2 linked regions of the Homo sapiens genome follow. The protein of the gene in region 1 purifies or fractionates together with the protein of each later gene. This does not show direct contact. Each region holds a gene or a part of one and is shown in the gene's direction. Other genes may lie near its edges.

What was found.
Region 2: the proteins of BMP6 (region 1) and ANKRD50 purify together in Homo sapiens (affinity purification with mass spectrometry; one large-scale study listed by BioGRID and IntAct). This does not show direct contact.

Annotation. Positions count from the first base shown.
Region 1 is NC_000006.12:7,732,577-7,736,403, forward strand, and holds part of BMP6 (bone morphogenetic protein 6 preproprotein), read left to right. Parts: intron 1-3,827. UniProt on the Homo sapiens protein: Growth factor of the TGF-beta superfamily that plays essential roles in many developmental processes including cartilage and bone formation.
Region 2 is NC_000004.12:124,702,507-124,706,333, reverse strand, and holds part of ANKRD50 (ankyrin repeat domain-containing protein 50), read left to right. Parts: intron 1-3,827.

The DNA of each region.
Region 1 (3,827 bases):
ATTTGTTGCCTCTCTGTGTCTTCAGAGAGTAACTACTTTATATGTTGGATTTCAAATTGATATTTTACTTGACTATGAATACTGGCTAAATACTGGCTATCAAATGTAGTATATCAAACGTAGTATATCAAACGTAGCAAACTAAAAGATAGCAGCTCTGCTGTCTTTGCCTCACTCCTATTTACGAAGGTGAGTTAGACAAGGAAAATGAAGAGGGTACAATGTCTTGCATCATGAAGCAGCTTTCTGTAACTTTTTCACAAACCAATCCTTCACTTTCTGCTTCCCATCTTATATCAAAAATGAACTATTCTAGGGAATGATTTTTTTTTTTTTTTAAGACAGTATCTTTTTCTGTCACCCAGGCTGGAGTGCAGTGGCGAGATCTCGGCTCACTGCAACCTCTCCGTCTCCTGGGTTCAATCAATTCTCCTGTGTCAGCCTCCAGAGTAGCTGGGATTACAGGTCTCCGCCACCACACCTGGCTAATATTTTTTTTTTGTATTTTTAGTGGAGCTGGGGTTTCACCATGTTGGCCAGGCTAGTCTCAAACTCCTGACATCAAGTGATCTGCCTGCCTTGGCCACCCAAAGTGCTGGGATTACAGGCTCACGCCACTGCGTCCGGCCAGGAATGACTATTGTTTAACTTAGCACAACGTCGTTACAGTTTTAATTTTTCTACTTCGATCTTTATTCTATTTTTCTTCCTCTTCTGTTCAGAATTTTAGTCATTTTGCCATCTTTGGTGCTTCCAGTAGTGGGAAGAAAAGTAGACAATATTTTAATTAGACAATTTTGTTTTTCACTAGTTTTCATAAATATATGAGTAAAAGGAGTAGAAATCACCGCAGAAACTCCCTAAGATAGGAATAGACAATTTACCAAGGCCCCATTCACGTAAACAGCTGTTACACATTAACCATCCTGTCCCCCCCTCCCTAGGCCACAGCATAACCCAGCCATGTGCCCAGCAGCTGGGCTGCTCCAGCCGCAGGGTGTCACCTGGGGGGCAGATATAGGGCATAGCTGGCATCTTCTCTTGTGTTCCCCGCAAGGAACCAGTGCATTATGTTGTTCTTATTTCCCTGTTTTCATCACGACAGCGGAGTTAACTTTATTCAAATACACTTTCTTTTCTGATCATACCCTTACCTTCTCTTCAACACCCTCACTCCCATCTCTGATCCAGCTTTTACCCACTGGAAACGTGTGAGTCGGAAAACGGCACTAGTCTCTCCTGGAATATATGAAAGTGGTGATAGTTGTATGAAGGGGAAGGAAAGCCATCACCACTTCGGTGAAAATTAGAGTTAACTCTAATTTTTCAGTGCCATTAACCTCTGAAGTTTCGAGAGTACCAGAAATTCTCAGAACCTGCATTCCCCCTGTTCACCTTTTACTACAAGCATTAGAAATCAGTAACACATTGTGGGTCACTGAAATTTATCAGATTTTGTGTTCAGTCACTAGTGTTTTGAAGATTTTGTTGTCTATACTTTTTTTCCAATGTGAATATGTAGTATTTCAGCACCCTATGCATAAAGTTAAGGGTCTGAAGCCAGGCTGGGAACACAGCTACCATCCCTAACATGGTTTTTCTGGGGACACGTATGCCCCAGCAACAGAAAACCCATTTGGGGTTTATTGGTTAAATGAGTTTGGGATAACTGGTGAATGTATGTTCGCCATAGATCATAGAATTTAGAGCTTGAAAAGTTCTCGCATATCATCTAATCTGTTTGTTCGCAGTTAAATTTGTTAGATGTTTTCACCACCATTTTCTCTTTACTGCTGTTACCTCTTAAGATTGAGGGACAATCCATGAAAACACACAGAGATCCTAGTGCATCAGAGCAATAGGGCTGTTGGCCAGGCTGGAGTGGATAATGAAGGAGAAATTACAAAAGCAGGCAAGAGCACAACCCTGGAAGAGCCGAGGAAACCCAAATCTGGAATTGTTGGGGTTTTCTCTTAGTGGATAGCATCTTCTCCAAGAACTCTACTTTTAGAAAAGAAAATGCTATGTATATCTATAAATGTCCAAAGGACTGTTGACTCCAAAGAATTGTTTTCTGCTCCGAAATTGAGTTGAAAACCACGTTGCTCTGAGTGGCATTGTTCCACTGATATCCACTGATTCTCTTCCTGCCCTTCCCATCTCCATTATTAAGGAGATTGGGACCATAATAGAGATGATATCTAAATTACATCAGTTAATTCCTTGATGGGTCCCCACGGTCTCGTTATCTCAAGCACAGTCCCAGATGACTGGGTCGAAGAATCTCCTTCAAACATTTTTGCAGGATGAGGTTCTGGTTCCAAGTGGGAGAGCCTTCCTGACTTTCAGATTTATAGGCATACGCCCTTGATGACTGATCCTCCTGCTGGCCAGGTCAGGATTGTCCTAGGCCTAAAATGTCCTTGCCACACAGTGCCGATTATATGTTCAGATTGTTTTCATATCACCAAAGAGCTCAGCTGGCCACGGGGGGAAGTGGAGTGGAGTGGATTCACAGGGCGCAGAAAACAGTGCCCCTCGGAGGCAGAGCCCCGGAGCCCGCTCCACCCTGACCTCCGATATCCGCCACGGGCCTTATTATCACTCTCCTGCCGCTTGCCCTTTCACCGTCCAGAACGTCTGCGTTTGTTGATTGTTGTTGCTGTGTTTACAGTCCTGTTGGTTTCCTGTACGTGAACATGGGCTGGAAAAAAAATTCTGATTTGTGTCTCAGCAGAGCATGAGTGAACCATATCATTGGTAAGAGCTGATTAGGCCAGGAGATTTCTTATAATATTAGCCTTGCTTATTCTCTGAGACCAGTTATTTTCCCTCCCTCCTTTTGAATCTATGAATTACATTTAAATAGTCCAAAGACTGAGTTTTGTAAACTACAAAATTAAGGACTAAAAGTTTTTACTTAATTTTGATTTTTATTCAGATTTTATTTGTAGACTCCCATATCGGAATAAGTTAACAACGGAGAAGCTGTACATTTTTTAGAAAGAGAGGGTTTTTTTTTAAGATCAGTTTGAGGTTCACAGCAAAACTGAGCAAAATTTTGCAGAGATTTCCCAGGTACCCCCTGCCCCACAGGTGCACAGACTCCTCCATTATCACCCAGCAGAATTTGGTATCTTTGTTGCAATTGATGAACTTATATGGACACATCATTGTCACCTAAAGTCTGTAGTTACATCCCGGTTCACTCGTAGTGTTGCAGATTCTGTGGATTTGGACAAATGTGTAATGATGTTATCCACCGCTATAGTATCATGCCGAGGAGTTGTGAAACTACTCTGCCCTACAAATCCTCTGTGGAGAAGCTGTACATTAAACAAGGAAAAACAAGTCAATGAAAGTATAAAAATTCAAAATACGCAGAGTTCGGGGAAAGAATTATAAAATACCTCAGTTGAAGAATATTTTGTTTCTGGGGTTTTACTAAAGTGGTCCCTAAGGAAGTAATTTTGATAGTCTATGACAATGTGGGATTTATTTTATAGTGCTTCTATGTGTTGACAACAAATCCATCAGAAATCTTTCTTTTTTCTTTCTTTGTTTTTAAGTCTAGGAGTTTAAAAATCTTTTTTCCTCCGCATAGTTTGACTGAGGTGTCTGTCACCATAGTACCTAGACAATCCCTCAGGCAGAGATATGAGTGATTAAATTTCTCCCTGGCTTGTGCCCTGTTTGATCCATGCTAGGCAGGATTTGGGGGAGTAAAATAAAGAAGCCTGAAGAATGAACAAGAATTATAGGAATTTTGTGCTTGTGAATTATTAAAATTTGGGGGGGTTATTAGGGGAGAGGTTAAATATTTTTCC
Region 2 (3,827 bases), on another chromosome or scaffold:
AGTTTTTTAGATATAGTTGTCACGAAATTTCTTCTGACATTCATTTATTTGTATGACAAATAATGAGAGTGTTCTCCGTTTGAAGCATAGTTCATTTGCGTTATTTATTAAGAACCTTCTGTGTGTTAGGTAGAGTTCAGCTGGAGATAAATCAGGGAATAGAACAGACAGAATTCTGCCTTCATGGAACTCAAATTCTAACATTAATATTTATCTTATTCATATAGAGAGAAATAACCATCAGAGTAAATACTTGTTACAGTGTTCATGAAACACATGAACATTTAAACATTAATAGAATTTTGTGATCTGCTAAAGGGAATGATATGAAGACACATTGCTATCTTTTTTTCATTTTTATTTTTCGTATCTGGTTAAAGTACAATGCTATTGTTAATTTCTTTACAATATTTTATTTCCTCATTTCTGAAACTAAGTTGATGTTTATATTTTTACTTACTTTGAGAGCCAAAGGCTGATTTCTTTAATTCTGCCTCCCACTTTAGGCCTTTAGTGCAAAACTTTGTATATTTTACATTGACTGTGTCTTTTCTAGAGTTAGTGTTAGAGGTGGACTCCTAGTAGTCCTATAATTATAAAACAAATTCCAATTATTTTTGACAAAAAACTCAAGCAACTAAGTTAGTGAGGGGTGGAGGGTGGTAGCATTAGGTTTTGTGGCTGGTTTAGAAGATAGCTGTTTCAATCAACCAGAAACACCTTTCTGGACTTTGAACAGAAATCGTTTTGGAGATTTAAAAGGATATGGTGTTGGGAAATACAAATTTTTGTTCTTAGTGTATGTCATTACCTCACTTTTATTTCTTGTTAACAGTCTGCAGGACCAGATATGTGATGTCAGTTTTCCTATGTTGGGTAGAAATATTTTGTTCTGTGTAATGTTAATAGGAAAAATTAAATATCTTCAGGGGTAACACGGGTTAAGTGTAAATGGAGTAAAATTGCAATAAAGAATTAAAGATGAATAACTCTAAGTTTTGAGAGTTTAATAGAAAATTTGTGCTAATGGTGAAAGGCAGTATGCCTTGTTTGAAAAAGAGTGCAAACTGGGAGACCAAATACTGACATTTGTTTTGTGTGTCAAATGGGAATCATTGAATGTTTGAATAATCCTTCTAATCTTATCTCCTCCAGGAGCATTTATGGATCTTCACTTATATCTGTTTAGGTTTGTAGCTTGCGTTGCAGTTTTTTTGTTTGTTTGTTTGTTTGTTTTTTTGAGATGGAGTCTTGCTCTGTTACCCAGGCTGGAGTGCAGTGGCGTGATCTTGGCTCACTACAAGCTCCGCCTCTCGGGTTCACGCCATTCTCCTGCCTCAGCCTCCCAAGTAGCTGGAACTATAGGCACCCACCACCACACCCAGCCAATGTTTTGTATTTTTAGTAGAGGCAGGGTTTCACCATGTTAGCCAAGATGGTCTTGATTTCCTGACCTCGTGATCCACCCACCTCGGCCTCCCAGAGTGCTGGGATTACAGGCGTGAGCCACTGCGCCCAGCCGTGTTGTAGTTATTTATGTATATATCTTTTGTTATCTTCCCTATTAGGCATATGCTTCTTCATAACGTTATTCATGACTGATGAATTTTTTATATTTACCATGGTGCTTTGTATATAGCACTTTGCATATAATAATTGTTAAATGACTGTCTTTTGAATGAGTGCATAATGCTACTTGCCTATCTAGAATATGTGTGAACCTAATTGAAAGAAGGCTGAAGCTCTTGAATAAGAAAGGAAATTGAAATGTTATGTGATTTAGGTCAGTTTTAAATGCAGACCAGACTGGTATAGTGATTATTAATTTGTTAACCTGCTGTCTGTTCTTTACCATGTATTAATATGGCATTAGTCCAGATAGTTTTAAGTGGCCAGATATCTATCTCCTGTCTCAACTGGCTCCAAGGATTTTTGGCACTCAACAAAGAGGCGAAGAACAGAAGGGGGTTGGAATGTGTGCCTCCTTCTTACCCTCACTTGTATGTTTTCAAGGCAAAATATATTACATTCGTAATCAATCTTGTATAACTAGTGCTATTTAAAATAACTGTCATTATCTATTCTTAAGTATTGTCAAATTAAAAGATTATTCTAAAGTCCCATTACTATTCAAGTTTTAAATAAAATAAGTGAATCAATATAATTTCATAATCAAAACTTTACATGTTTGTCTTTTAGTCTAAAGATCATCACCTTTCACTGAATGGTCTATTGTTTCCAACTTTTAACTATGTCCTTTCTACTTTAAGATACAAACTTCTGTTTATTCAAATCTTCCCACTTTCCCTTCTGAAAATCTTTTCTTTTTACCCTAGCTTGTCTGTTCCTTTTATATTTCAATCTAAGTGCTGCTTCCTTTGGTTCCTGGTACTCTTTATCATTTGCTGAACCAGTCCTCAACCTCTAATCACTTCTGCTCTAATGACATAACATATTGCTCCTGTTTGCATACTTAGAACTTTGAAGTTAGCCACATTCTTAGTTCTGTTCTGCAGTCCAATTTATTGTTTGATAACTCAGATTCCTTTTAGACCAGAGAGAGTGAAGTGGTGCTCTACAAGTTGAGTATGGGATGTTTTTACCCCAATGCAGCAAATTTCATATACATATCCAGATTTTTGCTTTTTCTTGAAAAAAAAAAAAACCTGGAAATTTTGACAGTACTTGGTTCTCATTCCTTTGAGGCAGTAATCTTACAGACTTGAGTCAGCTGCTGTCTTTATATAAGCCCTGCATGCTCTAATTTGGTTCAGCCTTCACCATGCTCTATTATTCTATAGCAGGACCAGTTCATGTATTTACATGTGCCAGCTTGGCTCCTATAGTCATTTTCAAGGACAAATATGTTTTCTATTCCTCTGAAAAAAATGCTGCATTTTTTATCACTCCCAGAATTTGCTCTCATACTGTCTAGAGTTCGTATGTGCAAGCGCTGCTTCCTCTTCCGTATCAGTTTCCCTTCCTCTTCCCCATCAGTTTCTTCCTAGCTTGCTGAAATCTAACGTTCATCTCTACACATTTACAGAAAGATGTTTATGCATGATTGCCTGTGAACGTACTGCTCAATTTGCCTTTAGGCTTTAAATGATGTATTTTAGGTATTTTTTTTCAGTATTTGTACTTTTTTCTTTCAGAATCTCGCACTGACTCCATTCTTTGGTGGACCTTCCTCTGGGTCCTCTCTGGGTGTTTGCCCCACAAGCTTAGATCTTCTCTCTTTACACATATGCCTTCAATTATTTTATTTACTTACATGGCTACCAATGCATAGATAAAGCTGTTGACGCAGATTTGATTGCTATCTTATTAGCAATCAAATCTGCATCAACAGCCTTATCATTCTGATCAATATGTATCCTTTCACTTGGTAGTCCCTCACTAACCTATGTTTAAACTAACTTCTCTTGAAGCATTTCTATTCATTGATGATTCATTTATTTCTTAATCAAGTATTCAGTGTCAACTATGTGTTAGATGTGTACTAAGTATTAGGGCTAAAGTATTGAGCCAAGCAGAACACTAAGTTAAGTGAGGTAAAATACATTGAACAAATAGTCACAAGAATACATGTTTAGAACACACCTTTGATAAGTGCTAAGAAGGAAGAAACAGGATGATAAAGCATATAATAGGAAGCTTGATTATTATCTACAAGTCTGGGAAAACTGACTCCTTATCTAGGTTCTATAATTATTCTTAGTTCATAGGCCGTTTTCTACTAAACCATGTGATCTTAGGATCATCAATATTAGCATCACCTGGGAGCTTGTTAGAAATGCAGACTCTCAGGTCTAGGGAATCAGAAT